Linked DNA regions of Homo sapiens. The protein of the gene in region 5 purifies or fractionates together with the protein of the main gene of each other region. This does not show direct contact. Each region holds a gene or a part of one and is shown on either strand. Other genes may lie near its edges. The genes, in order: TFRC, LEMD3, CUX1, ECE1, LAMP1, STK17B and MIOS.

Region 1 (3,500 bases), on a different chromosome or scaffold from region 5:
GTGATTCTCCTACCTCAGCCTCCTGAGTAGCTGGGATTACAGGTACTCGCCACCACACCCGGCTAATTTTGGTATTTTTAGTAGAGACGGGGTTTCACCATGTTGGCCAGGCTGGTCTCGAACTCCTGACCTCAGGTGATCCGCCTGCCTTGGCCTCCCAAGTGCTGGGATTACAGGCGTGCACCACTGCGCCCAGCCCAAAAAGCCCAGTTTTTAGACCAACACTCCCATTTCTGACTCAAAGGTCTGGGGTAGACATGACAGTTTGCATTCGTAACAGTTCCTAATGCTACTCATCTGGGGGCCACACTGAGAACTACCCACTGTTCTAGACAAGCAATTGTGCTCACTGTGTAACTTGACAGACTATTTAAAGGAAGGTTAAGATACAGGCTGAGGGCAATGGCTCATGCCTGTAACCGCAGCATTTTGGGCAGCTGACATAGAATGCTTGAACTCAGGAGTTTGACACCAGCCTGGGCAACATGGCAAAACCCCATCTCTACAAAAAAAATTAGCCAGGTGGCTGAAGTGGGAGGATCACCTGAGCCCAGGAGGTCAAGGCTGCAGTGAGCCAAGATTGTGCCACTGCACTCTAGCCTGGGCAATACAGTGAGACCCTGTCTCAAAAAAAAAAAAAAGCTTTCTTCCACTTCAAAGTAGTTTATCTGGCCAGGCACAGTGGCCCACATCTGTAATCCCAGGCCGAGGCAGGCAGATCGCCTGAGGTCAGGAGTTCGAGACCATCCTGGCCAACATAGTGAAGCCCTGTCTCTACTAAAAATACAAAAAATTAGCTGGGTGTGGTAGTGAGCACCTGTAATCCCAGCTACTCAGGAGGCTAAGGCAGGAGAATCGCTTGAATCTGGGAGACAGAGGTTGCAGTGAGCCGAGATCGTGCCATTGCACTCCAGCCTGGGCGACAAGAGCAAAACTCCATCTCAAAAAAGTTTACCTGAATTCATACACAGCTAATGAAAGGGATACTTACCAAGAACCGCTTTATCCAGATTAATATAAGTGAAAGCCTTTAAATGCAGGGACGAAAGGTATCCCTAGAAGAGAAGGGAAAACACTAATAAGTATAAATCTGTTTATTTATCACATACAGTAGCATTAGGGATTCATTTTCAATTCTGGACTCTACTGAGACTAAACGCAAAGGCAAAAGTGGTAAAATCAAACCTATAAAAACATCACTTCTGGACAACAGCCTAAGCCCACAAGCTCGTGTCCAATATGGGAAGGGATGATAAAGAATACCTCTAGCCATTCAGTGGCACCAACCGATCCAAAGTCTCCAGCACTCCAACTGGCAAAGATAATGCTTCTGCTGGGCTGAAACCCATCTGAAAGAGAAAAAAGTTAGCTTTACCTGAGGAAAGGTTATACACAGACAAGGATGGAAGGTATCCCACTTAAGATGAATCAGAAGGTCTAATTCCAAGATAGCAGATTCCAAAATCTTTTTTTTCTGAGCCAAAAAAGAAAAAAAAAACTAACAAAATCTTTTTTTGAGACCCCAGGTAAAAGAATAAAAGAATAGGAATAATTTTTTTTAAAGTAACCTACAAAGAGCAAGATAGGAGATCTGCAAATAAGATTTTGAGTACATAGCAGGGGCCAGTAGTCACCCTTTCACAATTTCATTCTTGGAGTTCCTTAACTTCTGGACCCAGAGATCATTGAAAACAGTGTAAGCATGATGATGCACATCTTGAGAAAAATCTTCAGAGGTAAATCCAAACATTGGATTTTTAAAAAAATAATTCTAAAATAAAATAAAAATTCACAAATTTAAGTTACAAGAAGAGTTTGCAGAGAAACTATATTTGTGACAGCACCTTTTGAGGTTACATGTATCACACTGCCCTCCATCCCTCCCACTTCCCTCACTGTATCTTTTTCTCCATTAATGTACTCTGTATTAAAGTTAAGCATTGCAGTTTGCCCTAAGACCCAAAGATTCAAGAATGTGACGTGATTTTGAATGTGTGGGTGGGTAGGAGTGTGAAAGAGTGGAAAGTAGGACAGAAAGGCTCAAAAATAAACAAAAGAGGCAGGGCACGGTGGCTCACTAGCAGCATTTTGGGAGGCTGAGGCGGGTGAATCACTTGAGGTCAGGAGACTAGCCTGGCCAACATGGCGAAACCCTGTCTCTAGTAAAAATACAAAAATTGGCCGGGTGTGGTTGTGGGTGCCTGTAATCCCAGCTACTCAGGAGGCTGAGGCAGGAGAATTGCTTGAAGTCGGGAGGCAGAGGTTGCAGTGAGCTAAGTGAGATCACACCACTGCACTCCAGCCTGGGCAACAGAGTGAAACTCTGTCTCAAAAAATGAATAAATGAATAAACAGAACAAAATTTCAATAGCTGTTAGGCCTCAGTACATGAGTAGAGAGGTATGCTACTGCTTTCAAATAGATTGCTTAGGGACTATGATCCACCTTATCACTCTGGATCCACCACACTAAGCACTAGGGCTCAGTAACTCCACTGTCTCAAAGAAACTGGTGATTTCTAGCACAGTTAAGACACTTTATGGAAAGCTGTTTCAAAGGAAAAGGCAGCTACAACAAAAGACAATCTGCCTTGTATTTAAGAACTAGAGTCTAGCATGAGAACCACAGGAATGCAGGCAAAGTGAGCAAAGCACAGTATAACATCTAGAACTGTATGCAGTGCACCAATATTCAAAAGAATCAAAATTTGTACTCTACCTTTTAAGACCATATCTGAGAACATCTGGGCAAGTTTCAATAGGAGAGCTGTGCCTACACCGGATTTTGCAGCTCCAGGGCCCCATGCATCTCTCTGGGCCCCAACTACAACATAGTGATCTTTAAAAAAGAAAAAAGAGGAAGAAAGAACTTATATAATCAGCTTCTAAACTTTTCTAGAATTAGCACATCAGTAGAAAGGTAAAAGCACAGTATATGTATTAAGGATAAAAGAGCCTTACTTCAAATCTGACTAAAAACTCTGGGAATTAAAAATTCACATGAGAATATTAATTTTACCTTACTAGTAGAGCTACTTTTTTCCTACACTACTAATTAAATTTACTGACTACTTAAGTCCAAGGACTTATTTCTTAGTAAGTGTTGGCTGTTTGATTGCATTTAAAGTTAACTCCAGGGACTGGCAAACTACAGCCCGCATGCCCATTCACTACGCACAGTCTGTGCCTGTTTTCTTGCTCCCACAGAGTTGAACAGCTAAAAGAGAGACTGTATAGCCTGGCAAAAGGTTTATTATCTGCCCCCTTAAGAAATTTGCTTATCACTGGTCTAGTCAATAACTTAGAATAGATTTTCTAGTCATAATGGTCAATTTTTAACAAGAATTTCCTAGGGCCTTATTACCTCCCAATAAAACTGACACATAGGCTGGGCGCGGTGGCTCATGCCTGTAATCCCAGCACTTTGGGAGGCTGAGGGAGGCAGATCACCTGAGGTCAGGAGCTCTGACCTCATGGAGCCTGACCAACATGGAGAAACCC
Region 2 (3,500 bases), on a different chromosome or scaffold from region 5:
AGGAGAGATTAAGAATTATCCCTAAGTTTATGGCAGAATCAACTCAGGAAAGGTATCATTAACTAGACTAGGAACACTGAAGAGGATCAGGCTGGTGTACATGTTGAATCTGTGGTGCCCACCTCCTAGTACAGAAATATATAGTTGGGTACAAAAATCTGAAAACCAGACTTCATTCAAAATAAAAAATTTGGGAGTTATCCCAATATGGTAAATTAAGTCACAGCAAGACGATTATCTAGGGAGAAATGGCAGAGTGGGAAAAAAAAGATGGCCTTGAGAAACTCTAACACCTAGAGGTGAAGAAAAAGAGGATAATCTAGAAAAGGACTGAAGAAAAAGTCTGAGGTAGGAGAAAAAAAACAGAAGAAGGTGGCATCCCCAAATCCCAGTGAAGAAAGTTTCAAGGAGGGCTGAACTGTCAAACACTGTTAAGAGGTCAAGTAAAATAAGGAATTCTCTATTTTCAGTTTATAGGGAAACTGAAATGCATGCATCATTTAGAGGAAATAGTATAATCATTGGCAACATGAAAGCATCATTTTTTTAATTTAAGTTCTGGGATACATGTACAGGACATGCAGATTTGTTACATAGGTAAACGTGTGTCATAGTGGTTTGCTGCACCTATCAACTCAAACCCATCACCCAGGTATTAAGCCCTGCCTGCTTTAGCTGTTTACCCTGACAGAGCATCACTTTTATGCCATGTTTAAAGAAGCCTCTTATTCAAGCTTTTTCAAAGTGAAAATTAATTGGAGAATAAAAAAGGAGTGACTGGACTTTGTATTGCATGTCCAAAACAACTTACCTTTTCCACAAATACTATGTTTAGCAAATACTGACATACTTTTATAGGGAAAAAGTCATAATTTTCTGATGCATTGTTTTCTGCTTTTCTGTGTAGTAAAGGTTTGGGTACATATGACAGCCAATCTTCAAAACCCCCTATAAACTTACCCCTTTCTTATTTATACATGTTTTTGAAACTATGTAGGCATTAAGAAAAATATGGAAAGATACCCACAAAAGTTACTTGGCAGGAGGAATATATAAATAGAAAGGTCTTAGTAAGAGGAGGCAGGCAAAAACTGGAAAAAAAAGAGCAGTTAAAAAGTTATGACTTCACTTATATACATATATAGTTTATATATATTTTATTGTATATATAACATAAATTATGTGTCTTATTTACATAAAGAAATTAGATGAAAAGAATGCAGTTAATATATATAATACTAAGTTGCTTCATTAAGTGAAAAAGGCAAGATTCAAGGAATATTCATCTTTATTAAAGATAAACCATTTATGTTTGCATTAGCAAAGATAAAAGTGTGGAAGGATACATAAGAAGCTAACACTGATTCCTTCTACGAAACAGAACGAGAGAGTTTTGCCTTCATACATCTTTGAATTGTACTGTTTCACTTAACACATATTTGTCATTTTGAAAAATTAGAAGAAAATTACTTTTTTGATGTTTAAAAATACATACCTTGACCTTGCCATACTTTAGAAGGTATAACTAATATTTTGTCACAGGATGCAGAAGGCTGGATCCACCGCCAAACCAGAAAATCTGCACCACCTATTCTTCGTGTTTCCGTGCGAACTCTAGACTCATTAGCAGCAAGGAAGTCAACAGCTCTATCCCAGACTTTCTTCATTTTTTTCCTATCATGTGAACAAAATGGCAAATTTACTATCATCTTGGCTTGTCATCTTTTTGAAATATTAGTATCTGAGGTAATAGTTAACTCTAGCTGTTCTTACCACTACTCATGGAGTTTGTTCAAAGAAGATTTAGATGCCTATATCTCATCTCAGATTTTCTGAGTTTCAATTTCCAGAGCTAGAGCACAAACATCTGTATTTTTTTTCCCCAAAAGCTCCACTGGCTTTATGTGTTGCTAGGGTCAAGATGCTGCTTCAGGATATGGAATTATCTTTTATTTTCAAAAAGTTGCATTTTAGTTTTTACTTTAAAAGCTTCATTAATAATAAAGTTAGTACTTAAAAAACATTAGTAAAACACCAGCCACTGGCTGTCATCTATTTCTTTATCAAGATGAAATTAAAGGAAATAAGATGGAGACTAACAACAAAGAATCAAGAATGCCTAGGAATGAGAATGACTTAGAAATCCAGGTGTCACTCAAAATCAGGAGAATGGAAGAGAATTTAGAAAGAGAGTATAAAGTACAAAAACAAAGCAAAACCAAAAAAAACCTGTGCAGTAAGCAAGTCTAGTTGAGAAGGGTCACAGCTCTCAATATAATTTTCAATACTGCAGAAAGCACTTAAATTTTCTGATTTACTTGAACTCATAATGCTTTGAACACACCTGTCATGAGGCTGTATTAAGGAATCGCGTACATGTGGAATAGGCATGTAAGGTTGTAAATCTTTGTTTTCCTGGCAGGCTTCATTATGACTTCGTAAAACATCTAAAAATAAATAAAATTTACAAATGAATCAATCACTTGACATAATGTAGTTTAATCATGCAATGACTCTTCTAGAAATAGTTGAGATTCTTACAAATATCATACCTATAATCTTTACCACCATATCATACATCTGCCTTGTTTCCTCCTCTTCTTTTGTCCATCGATATTTCATGTAACGCAGAACGACACAAACCATCACTACACCTGTAATATTAATATACTTTGTATTTTAAAAATTGTGGTCAATATCATTCAATAATATTTCAGTGATTATTTTAACTGCCACAACGGAATGAACCTTCAAGACAGATGGCTGAATTAGCTATATAATTAAAACTACATAAAAAAATTTAATACTGAACATTTTCCAAAGATTCACTTTCTAGAAAAAAGCATTTCTTCCATTACACTGATAAGTGAACATTTAAATTCTAACTACTATTTAAAAATATATATATATAACTATGTTTCACAAACTTTTTTCCTTTGAAGCATAAAACGACTAGAAAAGTGAACCTCATGAGATTAAACATACTAAATCTTACTTTAAGTAAAATGAATTTTTCTTTTGTTGTTGTTGTTTTTGAGATAGGGTCTTACTCTGTCATCCAGGCTGGAGGGCAGTAGTGCAATCATGGCTAACTGCAGCCTCCAACTCCTGGGCTCAAGAAATCCTCCTACCTCAGCTTCCCAAGTAGCTGGGACTACAGGCACGTGCCACTATGCCTGTCTAATTTTAAAAATTTTTTTGTAGAGGTAGGGTCTATGCTTCCCAGGCTGGTCTTAAACTCCTGAGTGCAAGCAATCCTCCTGCCTCCCAAAGTGCTGGGATTACAGGTGTGAGCCACTAAAGCTGGCCAAAATGAATTATTTTTAAAGAAGAAAGAAAGAATGAAAAAACAACTCTCACCTAAATCCCTATTATCAATTAAAAAATGATAAAAATTTTAAATGTAGGTAAATTACATTTTAAAAACTAAATTTTAATAAACTTTATAACACTTTATTATTTAAAAATAAGCTCAATTTTTGTATTTTTCAATTCTACTT
Region 3 (3,500 bases), on a different chromosome or scaffold from region 5:
ACCTCCTGGTACATGTAGACCTCGTACTGCTCGGGGGTCAGCGGGGGGACCGAGGGCTTGGTGGGCTTGGACATGGGCACGATCGGGGAGGATGGCAGGGGGCTGTTCTGTGGTGTCTCGCTGCGGCTGGCCCCGGTCAGACTCAGCTCTGAGCTCTGGGAGTATGGGGACTCAGCGCTGGGCCACTCCTTCCAGTACTCTGACGACGAGGGTCCCTGGAGCTGACTGCGCTCGGCCCGAGGCTGGCTGCCACCTCCGCTGCCACCGCTGCCCTTCTCTTTCCCGCCGCCCGTTTCTTCGGCCTTGGCCTCCTCGGAGGAGGCGGCATTTCTTCTCTCCGGCTGCACCGCGCTCCACCAGTGGTCCTTCCAGGCACCGCTGCGGCCCACCTCATTTTTCACCTGTCTCAGGACCCCTTGTGCACAATCGGCTGCTCCCTGGGGGTCCAGCCCGGGGGCGTCCTGGGCCTCCTTTTTGAGGGCCGGGGGGTTCGGCAGAGCAGAGGCACCGGCCTCAGGAGCTGCGGAGGGCTTCTTCAGGGAGATGGCGAGAGGTGGGTAGCTGGACACGGTGGGCATGGGCGAGGTGGACAGAAGCTTGGGGGTGAGGATGGTGATGTCACTCTGGGACAGTGGTGCCTGCTTTAAGGCAGGGTCGAGGGCAGCCTGCTGGGCCTCCATCTCCCGGCGGGCTTGCTGCAGGATGGAGCGGATGGCGTCATCAGAGTTCCCGCTGCCGGATGCGGAGGAAGGCTGGGCCGGCTCTGCTGCATGGAGAAACAGGGGTGAGAGTGTGGCAGGGCGGCCCCCTTCAGCTGGGGACATGCTTCTCATCCTAACTTGACCTACTGCAAAGTGTGGGTTATTTGGGAGAACCACACTGTGTATTTCCCCAGCATGGCCCCTGTCAGTGAAACATTCAGGCATCTTGTCTCAACCAAGGACCAGGGCCTGACACTACAGCTTGATGACCTGGTGGCCTTTGGTATACACACAGATGTAGAGGGTAATAAAGGGGGTGTCAGTGAAAGTGCTCCCCGACCTGCCCTCCTGGGGCTCCTTTCCCCGAGAATTTTTTTTTTTTTTTTTTTTTTTTTTTTTAGCGACAGGATCTCGCTGTTGTCCAGGCTGGAGCGCAGTGGCACGATCACGGCTCACTGTACCCACCCTCCACCTCCCTGGCTCAAGCAATCCTCCCAGCTCAGCCTCCCAAGTAGCTGGGACCACAGGTGCATGCCACCATGCCTGGCTAGTGTTTTAAGAGACAAGGTCTCTCACTGTGTTGCATAGGCTGGTCTTAAACTCCTGAACTCAAGTCATCCTCCCCCATCAGCTTCCCAAAATGCCAGGATTGCAGGTGTGAGCCACCGCGCCTGACCTCTGATAATTTTTATACTTGGTATTCATTTTCCTGTGCTATATTCTGAAATGCAAGTGGTTCTGTCAAAGTTAAGGAGCGTAATTTCTGTGAATAATTACAACTAGGGGCCAGGCGCGGTGGCTCACACCTGTAATCCCAGCACCGTGGGAGGCCGAGGTGGGAGGATCACTGGAGGTCAGGAGTTCGAGACCAGCCTGGCCGACATGGTAAAACCCCGTCTCTACTAAAAACACAAATATCATGGGCATGGTGGCACATGTCTATAGTCCCAGCTACTCGGGAGACTGAGGCAGGAGAATCGCTTAAACCCGGGAGGCAGAGGTTGCAGTGAGCTGAGATCGTGCCACTGCACTCCAGCACAGGCAACAGAGAGAGACTGCATCTCAAAAAAAAAGGTAACTATTAGGCAAATACAGATCACACAGACCTGCTTCTCTCTACGTGCCTAAATGCTTGAGAACAGGCATTCATTATTGTTTAAAAAAAAAATAGTTAATTACTGCTGACCAGAGCACTCATGACAATTCTCTTAATTAAGTTTGAAGACAGTGGATGAAGAAATGGAAGCTGTACCAGTTTTCTGCACTTGGAGCTCCCTCTTGGCTTGCTCTAGGATGGACTTGATGGCTTCATCAGAGCCAGTCTCCGAGGCTCGGATCCGGGTGGTGATGTTACCTGTGGGGAGAAGTTGCGCCAATGACATCAAACCCAAACCCCGGACAAAAATCAGCGCTGCGCGAAGACGTCATTCTGATATATAGCCCCGGGTGGGGGCTGGTGACACAAGGAGGCAGATGTGGCCTCCCAGTGGCCTGTGTTTGCTGTGAGTGCAACTTCACAGCGACACCGGGCAGGAGGGATTTCCTGCTCATTTGACCTTACGGTCAATGTTACTCTGCCAAAGCCGGACACCACCCGTGGGTTAGTACCCGGGAGAACCGATCATTTAATCCATATATATAAAAGGCGAGTGATTAAAAGGCAATGTTTCTCATGAGTCACTTAGAAGCAACTGCTGTGGCTTGGGACTGACTCTCCTCGGGGTTAGATGTTTATTGGATGCTGGGGTCCCACACAGGATAAACGGAAAAGGAGGGCAGAGGGTTTGAGGCTGATTGTCTATCAATCATTCAGAGGCACAGGGTGAAGAAAGGCTTAACTTAAAAAATTGTTTGCACCTATTATCACATAATATCTTTTTAAAATTTACATACGAGGAAAGGAGCCTGCAGAAATTCCTAAGTGGGGAGGATGGATTCTTTCGGCCACATGGTGATGTTTTGTGCAGGCACACGTGCCGACGAAATGAGGCTACTATGGCCCAGGGGCTGGCCCCAGCTCTTTCGGGAAGCCACCCGGATAGTTTAATTTCTTACTACCTTCCTAAATAGGAACCACTGCATTCAAAACAAGTATACCACCATTTAAAAACAAGTATGCCACCGGGACGATGTGGGATGCGTCCGTTCCATAGGACCTTGAGTGTGTTTCCGAGTTAAAAATACGAGGAAGCAGCAGTATTTAATTTGACGGGTCACCTGACTTTTCTCAGAGCAACCGCTGTTATTTTTTCAACTGCGTCTGAGAAAAACGGGGGACCGGGTAATTAGGATCTGAAGTGGGCTGGGATTCAGACTCGGGGGGCTTAGCTTAGCAATGCCTCTTCTCACCCCCGCCTGTGCTTGGGAGAGGGCAGGCAGCTCGGGAGGAAGGGGCTGGGTGTGCTTGAACCCGTGCCTTGTTTTATACTTACTAGCTGTTTTTCCATCAGGTTCCAGGCCAGAATCACACTGCACAGTTTTAACCCAAATACACAGCTAAGGACATGCTGCTTCCCTAGGTGACTGACTGCAAAGAAAACGCCTGCCTGCAACATACCTTCAGACCCATTTCTTCGTTTCGGTACTTCCTGAAATAGTCTGTTCAGGCTCTGGCCTGGATTCTCTGTTGAAAAACAAGTGTGGTAAGAACAAAACAATCAGGGGAATGGTGGTGTTGACGATATGGGCTGTGTGACATGAAATCTGAGCCGCCTGTCACTAAAGAAAGGGCTCAGGGCTGCCTGTGCAACTCGGGAGTTTCTAGAATCTTCTGAGAGGCCCTTCCCTGGCTGACCGGCC
Region 4 (3,500 bases), on a different chromosome or scaffold from region 5:
TCACTTTGTGGTAGATGAGCTCCTCATCACGGCGCTTCTCCTGTGGGATGGTGATGTTGGCCAGTGCCGTCTCAAAGTCCAAGATCTGCTGCATCTGGGGCCGGATGGCCTCCTCGTCCCCGCCGCCCAGCAGCTTCCCCAGCTGGACCATGTAGTTCAGATATCCGGTCAGCACCTGCAGGGCCCATACCCCAAACTGTCAGTGGCTGCCCCCCCACTATCCACTGGACGAGAGTTGGTGGGGGGCTTGGCCAGCCAAGTCCGGCACAGGGAGCCAGGGGGCTGCACAGTGCCCCCAAGACACCCGTGGGGCCAGGTGTGGTGGCTCACGCCTGTAATCCTGGCACTTTGGGAGGCTGAGGTGGGTGGATCACCTAAGGTCAGGAGTTTGAGACCAACCTGGCCAACATGGCGAAACCCCGTCTCTACTAAAAATACAAAAATTAGCTGAGCATAGTGGGAGGTGCCTATAATCCCAGCTACTCAGGAGGCTGAGGCAGGAGAATCACTTGAACCCAGGAGGAGGAGGTTGCAGTGAGCCCAGATTGTGCGCCATGGCACTCTAGCCTGGGCGGCAGAGAGAGACTTTGTCTCAAAAAAAAAAGAAGAAGACACCCGTGGGAGACACAGCATTGAGAATGATCTCGGGGCCGTGTCTCTCTGCTGCTTCCCTACAGCCTCCAGGAGAAAGCCCAAAGTCTTGGCTCGTCTCACAGGTCCCCACCTGGGCTGGTCCCTGTCTTCCAGGGCTTGTCCTGGGGCTGTCTTTCCATTCTTAGAATGCATCTTTTCTGACCACCCCCCACCCGTGTTCCAAGATCTGAATTAGGTCTCCACGGTAGACTTTCTCAGCTTCACTTTCTCTTAGTTAAATAATATCCGCCTCGCCGACCAAACCACAGGCCCTGTGGGACGAAGGCTATGGTGGTCTTGTCTGCTACCATCTCCCCAGCATCAGGCACTCTGTGGGCGCTTGGTCAAGTACATGCCGGCGGAAGGATGAAAGGACAGATGAATGAGTTCCAGGTGAGGTCGCCCCAAGAGGCATCACAAGAGGCAGGCCAGGGGGAGGGAGAGCCATGGGCTTCGGAGCACGTGGATCCGGATGTGAATCTCAGGCTCGTCATTTACTGGCTATGTGACCTTGAGCAGATCACTTAGCATCTCTGAGCCTGATACCCTCTTCTGTAAAAGGCAAGACAAAACTAATTCCTGTTTGACAGATGAGGCAAATGAAGTTCAGTATCTGCAGGGTTAATGGGAGGGTCACAGGTGATGTATAAAGGGCCAGGCGAATTGTGGTAGCTGTTATTGCTGCCTCTGCCTCTCTCTAGAACCAGGACAAATGATACCTGTCTCTTGCCCCTTGTGTCCATGATGCCTGAGTGACACAGCCAGCCTAGGGGTGTCCCTCCCCTGCCAGGGTCTGCCTGTTTCACCCATCAGGTCACTGACACCCCTGGGCTCCCCTAGCTTCAAAGACCTGCACAGGTGTGGGTGTGGACACGGAGCAGGAAGGACCGTGCTGGGAGGCAGGCTGGGAGGGGAGAGGCACGCTTACCTTCTCGTTTTCAGTTTTGTTCAGGTAATAGTCTCTCGAGGGCAAGCCCAGGCCAGACTGGTCCACCTGGCAAGAGAAGCAGGCATGAGAGGGAATTCGTGTTGCAATGCGTGTATCCACTGCACGGCCTCCTGCCCTGGGAATGGCTGGCACATGGCAGCAGAGGCCCAGCTCAGGCCCTTGGAGAAGCAGGACTGCTGGCTACAGTCACTGAGAAGCCCACTCAGGGACGGGATGACACATTCCTGCCTGTCCACGTGGCCCCCCCCCGCAGGGCTCCTGGGCTCCTCAGAAGGGCTGGACAGAGCCACCCTCCTTTTTAAACAGCTACTTGCCTCGGCAAAGTGCCTCTATCTCCCCAACGCTTTCCAGGTGGTTAAGAGTCACTCAAAAGCTGTGTGATCTTGGCCAAGTTACTGAACCTTTCTGATTCTCAGGTTTCTTCTCAGGTAAATAGGGAAAATAAAACCTAACCTTCAGAGCTAGAATGGGGATTCAAGAAGACAGTGCTGGTCAAGTGCCTGCCAAGCAGGAGGGGAGGGTCAAATTCTGCTTGCTACTATTGGCACCCATGGCCACATCTTGGCATACCTAGGACAGGTGTTATTGCAATCCATTTGATTTATAAGGTAACTGTAGCTCTGAGAGGTTGAGGCACTTGCCCAAGGTCACACAGTGACTGAATGGTAGAGATGGGCTGGGAACTCAGCTTTTAGGACCCCCAGCCTGGGTTTCTCACTTCTGCATTGGAGGTTGGGGCAGACCAGTGCTGGAGCTCCCCTGGGCAGGCTGAGCCTCTGTCTGGGGCATGCTCTGACAGGGAGAGATGGATTCAAACCCATTCCAAGAAGAGTTACAAAGAGCAGACGCTAAGGAGGGGGAAACCAGGATGTGGGTTCAGCTGTGCCCAGGAGTTGACATCATTCTTGGGGCCCACGGAAACCCATCAGCACCCAAAGTTTCACCTGTATGCAGTGCCCATCTACGCAAGGCCAGCAGCCTGCAAAGATCTCACCAGTGGGGCCTCTGGAAATAACCCAGGCTCAGAAACTAGAAGACCGCCGTCCCACCCAGGGCAAGCCCCTCTCCCACCCCAGGTCCTGCTAAACTCAAAACAGGAAGAGGTCGTGCCCGCCCCCTCGACCGCTGCAGGTTCAAGCTAGCTCACCTGGATCACGTTGCTGTTGGAGTTCTTGGAATCGGCACTGACATAGACAGAGAAGAAGGGTGAGGTGCGGTAGTGGGCGGTGACCACCTGCAGGGTGTCCTGGAAGTTGTCCTTGGCCCAGGGACCTGTGATGTTCCAGCCCCCGAGCTGTGGGGAGGGAGAGCAGGCAGGGAGGTGATGAGGTGGCGGGGAGACCCAGATGTGAATTCTGGTTCTGCCGCTGACTTGCTCTGTGACCCTGGAGCAGTCGCCTGACCTCTCTGAGCCTCAAGAGCAAAGGAAAGGATTGGTCTTCATCGGGGGTTTCCGACCCATGAGCTGGAGACCCATGGATGGAGCAAAGGCTTATCCTAGACAAGCCAAGCAGCCAGGCATGAATCCAGCCGCTCCCTGGGTGGCTGGGATGAGAATGGGAAAGAGACTTTTCCCGGTTCACGGTTTATATTTTGGATAATGAATTGTGTGAATGTGATTATATCAAAACATAAATTCAATTGTGCCTCTGGGATAAAAAAGGCTCCACATGTTTAAGAAGGTTGGTAAATTACGGTCTACTTTAGTCTCAAAGTTGGGATTTTAAAAAAATTTTTTTTGAGATGGAGTCTTGCTCTGATTCCCAGGCTGAAGTGCAGTGGGGCCATCACAACTCACTGCAGCCTCCACCTCCTGGGCTCAGGTGATTGTCTCACCTCATCCTCCTAAGTAGCTATGACTACAGGTGTGTATCACCACACCTGGCTAATTTTTAAATTTTTTGGAGATGGGGTCTTG
Region 5 (3,500 bases):
TACTTTAAATTTATTTAAATGATATTTCTTTGTTTTCCTCTGAAAGCTGAGACCTGGCTGGGCATGGTGGCTTACACCCATAATCCCAGCACTTTGTGAGGCTGAGGCAGGTGGATCACTTGAGGCGAGGAGTTGGAGACCAGCCTGGCCAACATGGCAAAACCCTGTCTACCCCGTCTCTACTAAAAATACAAAAAGTAGCCAGACATGGTGGTACAAACCTGTAGTCCCAGCTACTCAGGAGGCTGAGGCACGAGAATCGCTTGAACCTGGGAGGTGGAGGGCTACTGCACTCCAGCCTGGGCAAGAGTGAGACTCAGTCTCTAAAAAATAAAAATAAAAAAGCTGAAACCCTCAGCATATTTACTAAGTGAAAAAAAAATTGTATAATTGAAAAATGACTTAGTTTGAAATATTTCCTAATGAAGTGCTTCGGGTCAGTGAAAAGTGTTTGAGGAAACTTATAAAAGGGCAGCTTAATAAAAGCCAGCCTATGGCTGCTCCCATGTGGGCATCCGGGTTGTCAGTGGTGACTGTGGGCCCTGTGACTCCTCACCTGAGGGCGGGGTGGGCAGTCTCCCTGTCCACGCTGAGCTCCAGTCAAGTGTTAAGTCTCTGGCGTCTGCTGTGTCTGCCTGTCCGCTGCTTCTGCCTTGCTGGCGTCTGCTGTAGCTTCTGTACACTCATCTGATCTTTCACAAGAGTGAGAATATTTTGTCTGTTTTTAGAAACCTTTACTATGTCAAAAATAAGTGGTAGAATCTTCCCTAGATTCTCTAGATTCATTGGAAATGCCGTTAGTATGATCCTGCCTCAGTGTTGCAGAGTGTGGCTTGAAAAACCAAGCAAAGCAGACAGTAGATTGGAGGTTTCCTTGCACGCCCTACTTTGTTTCATTGTCGTGTAGCACCTTTTCTTTTTCTTTTTTTTTTTTTGAGACAGAGTTTTGCTCTTGTCACCCAGGCTGGAGGGCAGTGGTGCAATCTCGACTCACTGCAACCTCGGCCTCCCTGGTTCAAGTGATTCTCCTGCCTCAGCCTCCCTAGTACCTGGGATTACAGGCGCCTGCCACCATGCCCAGATAATTTTTGTATTTTTAGTAGAGACGAGGTTTCACCATGTTGGGTAGGCTGGTCTTGAACTCCTGACTTCATGATCCACCTGCCTCAGCTTCCCACCAAAGTGCTGGGATTACAGGCGTGAGCCACTGTGCCCGGCAGCACCTTTTCTTTATGGACATAGATTTTGGTATTTCCTTTACCAAAGGGAAGATAGGTGGGACTACTTCTGGTTATATGCTTCGCTTTAGGCTTGAAGAACAGTTGCTGTAAAGATTTTATTTTGTGAAAGACCCAAGGTTGAAATGAGTCGGATTCATTGGAATCCATTACTTTTCCAGGGAATAGGATTTTAAATGAAAAGCTAAGCATCCTCTCTTTCAATATCTGCCCTCACAGTGTGCCTGAGTTGCATTTACACTTAGAGTGACAGATGAGACTCGGGTGTGTGTGTGGTTGGAAGGCTGTGCTCACGCAGTGTGAGATCAGCCCCTGGGTGGTGAGTGCTCACTGGACTGGCATGCACGAACTTGTAGTGGCAGAGACAAGTGAAAGCATGTCATTTCTGCACGGATTCCAGTGGTGGCAGATAGGTGTTTGGCGTTAGAACAGGCAGAAACACCTGTTTTCCAATCTGTAATGAAAGAACTGTGTAATAACGTGCAATTTGTACAATTACCAGTGTCTCTACCGTAGTGATCAGATTACATTTGTTGCCAAACATCTTGATCAGGGAAGTGGAGTATGAGTAAGTCAGAGAGGAAATATTTAGCAGTGACCACTGTCCAGCTGGAAAGACCTATAGAGCTTCCATTCTGTCCCTTTGCTTCAGGATGGGGAAGGGAAGCCACTCCACCGATGTGTAGTGCTGTGAGGACCTTTCTGAAATTGGGCAAAGAGCTCAGCACTTTGAGTCCATGAGAAATAAAACTGACCAGACGTTAAGTAGCAGGTGAGGACCACAGTGAAAGATCCTGCAGCCTCTCCCATGGATTTCTGCAGATGGGTGAGTTGTGCCTTCAAGGCACCACGTCTTACAGAGATCCTCTGAGAAAGGCGGAACAGCGTATGCCTAGGATGATGCAGAAATTGACATGTGCCTTCCTGATAAGTGTTCTGGAATAAAGCACTAAATAGCAATAGACTAGGTTGGCAAACTCAATCAGATGGGCTTAGAGATAACAATTCCAGAATAGTATCCGAAAGGGACAGGGCACCAGGTGAACTGGCTGCGTAATCCATGTGTCTGGTTGTTCATTGAATTTAAGAAACACAGTGGAGGCTGGGTGCAGTGGCTGACACCTATAATCCCAGCACCTTGGGAGGCCAAGGTGGGTGGATCACCTGAGGTCAGGAGTTCAAGACCAGCCTGGCCAAAGTGGCAAAACCCCGTCGCTACTAAAAACAGAAATTAGCTGGGTTTGGTGGCACGTGCCTGCAGTTCCAGCTACTTGGGAGGCTGAGGCAGGAGAATTGCTTGAACCTGGGAGGTGGAGGTTGCAGTGAGCTGAGATCACGCCACTGCACCCCAGCCTGGCGACAGTGAGACTCCGTCTCAAAAAAAAAAAAAGAGAAACAGTGGAATCTTGTAATAAAAGCCATCACTGCTACAGCTGTGGAAAATGGAAATACTCGGTCGTATTTTCTGGACAGTTTTTGATGGTCTCCGTCTTCCCTGGAATTGACAGGCCTCATGCATTGTGCGTCAGCAGCAATGTTTATGGTGAAAAATGGCAACGGGACCGCGTGCATAATGGCCAACTTCTCTGCTGCCTTCTCAGTGAACTACGACACCAAGAGTGGCCCTAAGGTAGGAAACACCAGGGCACTTCATGCTTCCCTTGTGTGTGTGGAAAGATGATTTTTAACATTTCAACCAAGTCTTTGAAAAATGGCCCCATCTGAACATGGTGCTTTTCCTATCTGCATATCTCCTTCTGGTGTTGTCAGTAACCTGCGCTGTCATGTGCCATAGCCACAGGCACAGTAACAAACCTGTATATGTGCTGCACCTCACTGTTCATCATGAACATTTTCCTTTTTTTTTTTTTTTTTTTTTTTGAGACGGAGTCTCGCTCTGTCACCCAGGCTGGAGTGCAGTGGCGCGATCTCTGCTCACTGCAAGCTCCGCCTCCTGGGTTCATGCCATTCTCCTGCCTCAGCCTCCCCAGTAGCTGGGGCTACAGGCGCTCGCCACCACGCACAGCTAATATTTTGTATTTTTAGTAGAGATGGGGTTTCACTGTGTTAGCCTTGATGGTCTCAGTCTCCTGACCTCGTGATCCACCCGCCTTGGCCTCCCAAAGTGCTGGGATTACAGGTGTGAGCCACCGCGCCCAGCCTATCATCAACATTTTTCTAGTTTTCTTTTTTTTTTTTGAGATGGAATCTTGGTTTGTCGCCCAGGCTGGAGTGCAGTGGTACGATCTGAGCTCGCCACAA
Region 6 (3,500 bases), on a different chromosome or scaffold from region 5:
AACTTTTCTATAGATTTGGAATTTTGTAAAATAAGAGTTGGGGAAGAAAAAGTGTGTAGGATGATTTGAGGACAGAATTGACTGGGTGATAGTTATTAAAGATTCCACCGTTTTAATTTCACCATATAAAAATTATGCCACACTACTAAAACAACTAAACCTGATTAAATTTTTACCTTCAACTGAGACTACTAAATGTGACAATGCCACCCCAAAAGCGGAAGGCATAGTAATTAAGCCGAAGTTCTAGCAATAAATTTTAGTGGGTCTTAGTCACTCTGGTAAGAAATGTAATACATTAATCTACTTAAACATTTTCTGAGTGCTTGCTACATTTCAGCCAGAGGTATAGAGATCAGTAAGTTCTGCCAGTTTACTGGGTAAGGTACCTGAGTCAATTTTCCGGAGTATGAACAAGGTCCATCCATAAAATGTCTCAAATCTTTCCGATGTATTTTGTCGTTGCTGTTTGGATGAACCCCCAAAAGAGGATTTTATGAAAATAGTCAATGTTCTTATGTATATTCATCCTCCAAACCTAGTATTCCACTACTGTTTTGACAAATGTTAGCTACTTTTTACACACTTCAAACATGCAGATGTTATGCAAGTAGGTAACTTTTTAAAGGTCAGCTGAAGAATCTTTGACAAAAATAATTACAAAATATATGAAAACTGAAATCATATTGGTAGTATCTTGGCCTTTTCTGCAATTCTAATTTATTTTGAAAGTGCTATATAACACGCCTTAAGACGGTTCTGGGAAATGTACATAGTATTCATTCTTAAATGAACTACTTGTCAGTTTAACATTTTGCAAAATCTTCATTTTCATTCACAAGTTGATTCCAGCCAATCTATTTCGTGGAACAAAAACATTAATTTTAAAATAACTAAATACAAAAATAAGGTTAATATACCTTTAAATTTAAAAAGGCAATGATGCAAGTTAGTTACTAAAAAGAATTACTATAGTTAGCAATACATTTTTTACTAAAATAAACACTTATCTCTTCTTGGTTTATCATAAAATATATTTACTTCATTAAAAACTATTGGCACCCAAGGTATACTAAACATAAATCTAGCTGATCTCTTCCAGTTGTTGCAGATGTTCAAACACATTTTACATCCTTAGAATAAACGTGACAGACAATCATGCAACAAAGGCACTCTGTAAGAGTCACATGTCAATATACTAGGTAACAAACCGGTTACCTTAACAATCCTCTACCCCTACCACCTGGTGAACTGTAGAATACTGGGGGTGTTTTCACTTTTTCACAGACTTGTGGCAAGAGATATATTTATTATTGCTACAACTAACATAGTGCTTTACACATTACATATACCAAATGTATTTCTTTAACAAACAATGTATTAAGCAAAGTTTTATGCAGTTTACCTTTCTATTCTCCTTATTTTCTTGAAGGTATTTTTCAAATAGATGAAGAAAATATACAAATTACTTCAATTCTCCTTTCTATTCTTATTTTCTTGAAGGTATTTTTCAAATAGATGAAGAAAATATACAAATTACTTCAATTCTATCTGCCCATCAGATTGTGTTCCAGAAAAATTCAATCAATTAGCCATTAAGAAAATAATGTATATTCATTTCTCCACATTCCTCAAATGTTGTATTTGTCATTTGCTTATTCTGTGCTGTTAGTTTTTGTGTATGTGCCCGAGGCTATACATTTAGTCTTATGAAAATATCTGAATATAAATTAGGTCCCTTTTACATTTTATTAACAGGAATCTTTACAAGTTCTTGTCACACCTTTATCATTCTTATTCTTGACATTTTAATCATCTTTTCATACCAACTAAAATAGGTACTATTTAGTATATACTTACTATTCCAATATCAAAATGATTTCACTTGTATTTTCATAGACCTCATGAAGATTAATAACACGGGGACAAGACTTTGCCAATTCAAGCACAGCAATCTCGTGTAAAATTTCTGCTCGACAATCCTGTCCTCTTCTTCTCTTTTTTAGAAATTTTGCAGCATATTCTTGGCCAGTAGATTTTGATATACATTGTCTAACCACAGCAAATTTTCCTCTGGGGGAAGATGAGAACAATCAATTTTAATTTTTCTGCAGAGAACAACGTTAGTATATTACAGATTCTGTTATACCTCCAACTTAAAGTCAATTCTTTGAAATATCTGTGTCATTAGGAATTTATCTTTGTTCTCTAAATTGATTCAAATATCATACGTACTTTTATAAAATTTATAGTGCTATCACGTACAAATGTAAATGGCAAACTATAACAACAGGATAAGACAGAATTATATTTATTCTTCACTACTAAAATGATACATTATCTTGGGAGGCCGAGGCAGGCAGATCACTTGAGGTCAGGAGCTCAAGACCAGCCTGGCCAACATGGCAAAACCCTGTCTCTACTAAAAATATAAAAATCAGCCAGGCGTTGTGGCGCATGCCTGTAATCCCAGCTACACAGGAGAATCTATTGAATCTGGGAGGCAGAAGTTGCAGTGAGCCAAGATCATGCCACTGTACTCCAGCCTGGGTGACAGAGTGAGACTGTCTCAAAAAAAAAATAAAAAAAAGATACATTATCATTGCAGGGAAATAATCTCATTTGCACACCAACTCCATGCCATGCTCTTGATATAAATTATTGTGTTTAAGTATCACAACAATCCTATATAATAAATGCTCTCCTGTTCTTCACACCTCAGAGAAGATATGTAATTTAGTCAAGGTAAAGATTTAAACTCAGGTCTATTTCCAAAAACTGTACCCTTCATAGGGTATCATGTTAACTCTCTAATTAGAATAGCTTACCTTTAAATATAAGAAATTAAAGTGAATGCAAAAATGGGTATTTGACTTATTTAATTTTATTAGTAATTTTTCCTTTCAACACAATTTTTACCACCTTTGAAACTATCACAATTGTCAATTGTTTTAGCAATATGTCTCTTAGTAATGCTCAGTAGTCTTTGAAGCCTGTAACAGATAACTAAGGTATATGTGTCCTACAGAAAATATTCAAAGATACTTCATGATAAACTAAGAAAATAATGGTTATCACAGCTATGTACAAACACACCCATTAAGGTCATGTTTATCATTTTAGAAATAAGTATGCTTTTAGCTCTCTCCAATGGCAGTGCTTAGTACCTCTGCCAAAATTTAAAGACACCGAAAATTCATTTCTATTGGCATACGTGTTACTGTAAGTCTACAGCGGCCAAAAATTTATTTTCACAAAAGCCTAAAGCTATTCTGAGTCAAGGATTATTTTGGGAAATTAATAAAAGCTATTCTATTGACTGCCTACCCAGAAAAATATACACAAGCCCTTAAATAGGAAGTTTTACATATAATTCCAGAGGGTTTTCAGATCTTAAAGCCCATCCATAAACCTTATAAGGCTGAGTATAGGGGATCCAAAATTAAGAACCTCTACCTTAAATTTTGAATTACTCTCTGGATTCTGATACTAACAAATCA
Region 7 (3,500 bases), on a different chromosome or scaffold from region 5:
TCCCATTGGGGATGAAACTGAACCCACAATAATTGAAAGAAGTGTGCAACCTTGTGACAATTACATTGCTTCCTTTGCGTGGCATCCAACAAGTCAAAATCGAATGATAGTTGTAACTCCCAACCGAACAATGTCAGACTTCACTGTTTTTGAAAGGATATCTCTTGCCTGGAGCCCAATTACATCTTTAATGTGGGCTTGTGGTCGTCATTTATATGAATGTACGGAAGAAGAAAATGATAATTCTTTAGAAAAAGATATAGCAACGAAGATGCGTCTTCGGGCTTTATCAAGGTATGGACTTGATACAGAGCAGGTGTGGAGGAACCACATTTTAGCTGGAAATGAAGATCCACAGCTCAAGTCACTCTGGTATACTCTGCACTATATCCTTTTCATTGTGAATTTTGTGAGGTGAATCAGGTAGAAATGTTCTTGAAGTTTGCCAAAAGGTCAGTCTGTAAATATGCTCAATGTTTTATATACAAATACAAGTTACATAATACTAACATTATAAAGTAAAATTGTTCTAAACTTTCGAACTTGAAATACTGCTTTGTAGATTGTGTAGGAGGAAGAAAAGTGTATCTCTGCAATAGAGTCGAACCACCTTATTTACACTGATACTTATTATGAATTGGCTCCAAATCAAAATAAATTTAGCTTTGAAATATATTGTCATGCATCACTAGTATTTCCTATGCATTTAAATACTTATGAAGCAATACACAGAAGATATGGATCAGAAATCTCCAGGCAACAAAGGATCATTGGTTTATGCAGGAATTAAATCAATTGTAAAGTCATCGTTGGGTAAGAAAATTCTATTTCATTTTCTCCAATATGTTTATAACTTTTGTACTTTTATTTTGCCCCCTGTCATTTGGCAGAAATTATCTAGTTATTTCAGGATCATGTACATAATTTTTTTTGTTTTCTGATTGGATATTTCATTGTATTGTTGAGTTAAATGCATACTTGTATTTATATCCAAAACCCTTTTTGCAGGGAGTCTTAATTCTCTGAAGTGATGTTGATCTTCTTAAATCTATCCACACGTTTATTCAATGTTATTTTTTTGAAAACCCACTTTGAGAGGTTTTACACTAGACAATTTACAGATTACTGATTGTTAGTTCAGGTTTTATCGCAACATTTTGCTTCTTAAAAACTAAAAAGATCTCTAATTGAAGGAGATCCCTTTTTATTTTGCTCCTCAAATACTTTCATTGAGCCATCTAACAGCAAGGAGTATGATATGAAATATGGCCTAACGTGGAGGAATTATACCTGATATAGTCCTTGGTTAATTAGTGAATGAATTAATTAACGTGTGAGTTAATGTAGGATTGAAAATTGGTATGGTAAACTATTAAAGAATAAAAGTGACAAAAACCAAACTTTTTTTTTTTTCTGACTGCTTTAAACAGTTGTTCCTATTCTTTTACTGGAATTGAATAATGGGTTATATTAGAATTGCAGGTTGAGTATACCTTATCCAAAATGGCTTGGGACCAAAAATGTTTCAGATACTTTCAGATTTTGAAATATTTGCGTTATATACTTAGAGATTGACCATCCCTATTCTGAAATCCAAAATGCTCCGATGAGCATTTCCTTTGAATATCATCTCAGCACTTAGAAAGTTTCAGATTTTGAAGCCTTTTGGACTTCAGTTTTCAGATTTGGGATGCTCACCCTGTATCTCTGTGATCTAGGATTCGTTCTCTAACTTTTGGTAAGTCAAATTTGGGCCCAAGTCAAGCTGTTAGAAAAGTAGTTAACATTATTTAGTCAAAGAGCAGTAATAGAAGTAGTAAATCCAATTTGATTTTTTACGGAGCTTGTATCAGTACCATACAAACAAAATACAAAATAATAAAATATTTTAGAGTAGGTTAAGTGTTTTAATTAAACTGTTACATTATAGTGTTTTTTTAACGTCTTTCAAATTACTTTGGTTCACTTTACTGAAAGATGCAGTAGACTACTTACTGATCAGTTTGATTTTATTGTTTTTGTATTAGCCCTCCACCAAAAAAAGTAACCTTTATTATAAATAGTAAAATGAATAAGTTTAGTTAGAAGCTGCTGTTTTTATTAACATAGGTAAAAGGGCACACATACTGTTTTACTCCCACAAATGAACCTGGTACCATGGTTCAAGATTTTAGAGCCATTGCCTATTGCTACAAAGAATTAAACACCAAGTTTATAGAATTTATAGTGTTTTAGCTATATAGTAGATCAGGCCACACTGCACTCAATTATTTAGAGGTTGGTTATTGTGTTTTTTGTATTTTGATATATTTTAAGGAAAAGCCAGCATCTGAGGAAAAGCAAAAGGGGAAAATGTAATATGTTTATGTTTCTGGTGCACTAGAGACAAACTGAGTATCCCACCCCTGTGTCAAAATAGTCTCTACCCAGACTAAAGAAACACTACTGTTGGAAAGATTTCCTCATTCATCATTCTCTCATTGCTAGGTTTTCAGCTTTTTTTTTTTTGTTTGGTATAGATATTTTTGTTTCTACTACCCAAAGGTGAAAAGTAGAGAAATACTGTCAAATATGCCACTCTTAGATTTCAGTCTTCTGTTTTATTTGGCCATACCTTTTCCTCTAATTGTATCTCTAATAATCAACACATGGTAAGTCAACACATTGAGCCATCTTGTCCACAGTAACCTAATACACAAGTTTATTAGAGCATACAGCTAAATTTTAATTTTGGTAACAAATAGTATATATATAAGTGCTTGCTATGAATTAGTTGCTTTTCCCATGTTACTTTAATTTTTACAACTACAATATGAAGTAAGCTCATTCATTCAGCAAGTATTTATTACCTACATGCATGCTATATGCCAGGAGTTATCCTAGGAACTAGAGACATAACTCTCAAGAAGATACATAAATCTCTTCCCTCATGGAGATTGAGCAGGATCAATGTCATCCCTGCTCTTGAGGAGTTTATATTCTAGTTTAGAATATAGACAAGTAAGCTGGCAGTTATAACATAGGGAAGAACAGACAGTTAATTACAGGAAGGACTCCTAATCTGGTTGCAGGGATTAGAGGTTTCTCAGAGGAGGTACAGTTAAAGACAAGGTCCAGACAGGGAGCAGCATGTGCAGTGGACCCAGAGGGTAGAGAGCATAGCACATTATTATGGCTGAAACAGAGCATGAGAGAGGAAGTGAGGAAAGAATGGAGGCTAGAAAGGTAAGCAGTGGGCTAACTCAAGAAAGACTTAGAAATCATGTTAAGAATTTAGGGAGATTCATCTTGTAAGACGGGGAAACAGATGGATTTGTGACAGATTTGTGTTTTAAAAGGATCAAGATTGATAGTAGGGATATCAGATAGAAGCCTGCTGCAAGGAGGCAAGACGTGATGCTATCCTTACCAAGGTTAGTAGCAGAGGAGCTAGAGAAATGTGGATACATTAGAGAATAGGAGAAAATTTAATGATTAATTAGATAAAGGGGTGGAGAAGA

Evidence for each region.
Region 1: the proteins of LAMP1 (region 5) and TFRC purify together in Homo sapiens (affinity purification with mass spectrometry; 2 studies listed by BioGRID and IntAct, with this or other methods). This does not show direct contact.
Region 2: the proteins of LAMP1 (region 5) and LEMD3 purify together in Homo sapiens (affinity purification with mass spectrometry; 2 studies listed by BioGRID and IntAct, with this or other methods). This does not show direct contact.
Region 3: the proteins of LAMP1 (region 5) and CUX1 purify together in Homo sapiens (affinity purification with mass spectrometry; 2 studies listed by BioGRID and IntAct, with this or other methods). This does not show direct contact.
Region 4: the proteins of LAMP1 (region 5) and ECE1 purify together in Homo sapiens (affinity purification with mass spectrometry; one large-scale study listed by BioGRID and IntAct). This does not show direct contact.
Region 6: the proteins of LAMP1 (region 5) and STK17B purify together in Homo sapiens (affinity purification with mass spectrometry; 2 studies listed by BioGRID and IntAct, with this or other methods). This does not show direct contact.
Region 7: the proteins of LAMP1 (region 5) and MIOS purify together in Homo sapiens (affinity purification with western blotting, with the first as the bait; one study listed by BioGRID). This does not show direct contact.

The regions. Positions count from the first base shown.
Region 1 is NC_000003.12:196,061,591-196,065,090, forward strand, and holds part of TFRC (transferrin receptor protein 1), read right to left. Parts: intron 2,839-3,500; coding exon 2,719-2,838; intron 1,350-2,718; coding exon 1,264-1,349; intron 1,056-1,263; coding exon 992-1,055; intron 1-991. UniProt on the Homo sapiens protein: Cellular uptake of iron occurs via receptor-mediated endocytosis of ligand-occupied transferrin receptor into specialized endosomes. Endosomal acidification leads to iron release.
Region 2 is NC_000012.12:65,239,083-65,242,582, reverse strand, and holds part of LEMD3 (inner nuclear membrane protein Man1), read right to left. Parts: intron 2,655-3,500; coding exon 2,553-2,654; intron 2,448-2,552; coding exon 2,345-2,447; intron 1,675-2,344; coding exon 1,496-1,674; intron 1-1,495.
Region 3 is NC_000007.14:102,198,626-102,202,125, reverse strand, and holds part of CUX1 (Homeobox protein cut-like 1), read right to left. Parts: intron 3,325-3,500; coding exon 3,259-3,324; intron 2,056-3,258; coding exon 1,954-2,055; intron 767-1,953; coding exon 1-766. UniProt on the Homo sapiens protein: May be involved in intra-Golgi retrograde transport.
Region 4 is NC_000001.11:21,255,964-21,259,463, forward strand, and holds part of ECE1 (endothelin-converting enzyme 1), read right to left. Parts: intron 2,877-3,500; coding exon 2,730-2,876; intron 1,628-2,729; coding exon 1,562-1,627; intron 176-1,561; coding exon 1-175. UniProt on the Homo sapiens protein: Converts big endothelin-1 to endothelin-1.
Region 5 is NC_000013.11:113,303,739-113,307,238, forward strand, and holds part of LAMP1 (lysosome-associated membrane glycoprotein 1 precursor), read left to right. Parts: intron 1-1,895; exon of another isoform or gene 1,896-2,060; coding exon of another isoform or gene 2,061-2,064; intron 2,065-2,746; coding exon 2,747-2,868; intron 2,869-3,500. UniProt on the Homo sapiens protein: Lysosomal membrane glycoprotein which plays an important role in lysosome biogenesis, lysosomal pH regulation, autophagy and cholesterol homeostasis.
Region 6 is NC_000002.12:196,154,579-196,158,078, forward strand, and holds part of STK17B (serine/threonine-protein kinase 17B), read right to left. Parts: intron 2,074-3,500; coding exon 1,861-2,073; intron 466-1,860; exon of another isoform or gene 390-465; intron 1-389. UniProt on the Homo sapiens protein: Phosphorylates myosin light chains. Acts as a positive regulator of apoptosis.
Region 7 is NC_000007.14:7,573,384-7,576,883, forward strand, and holds part of MIOS (GATOR2 complex protein MIOS), read left to right. Parts: coding exon 1-386; intron 387-714; coding exon 715-813; intron 814-3,500. UniProt on the Homo sapiens protein: As a component of the GATOR2 complex, functions as an activator of the amino acid-sensing branch of the mTORC1 signaling pathway. The GATOR2 complex indirectly activates mTORC1 through the inhibition of the GATOR1 subcomplex.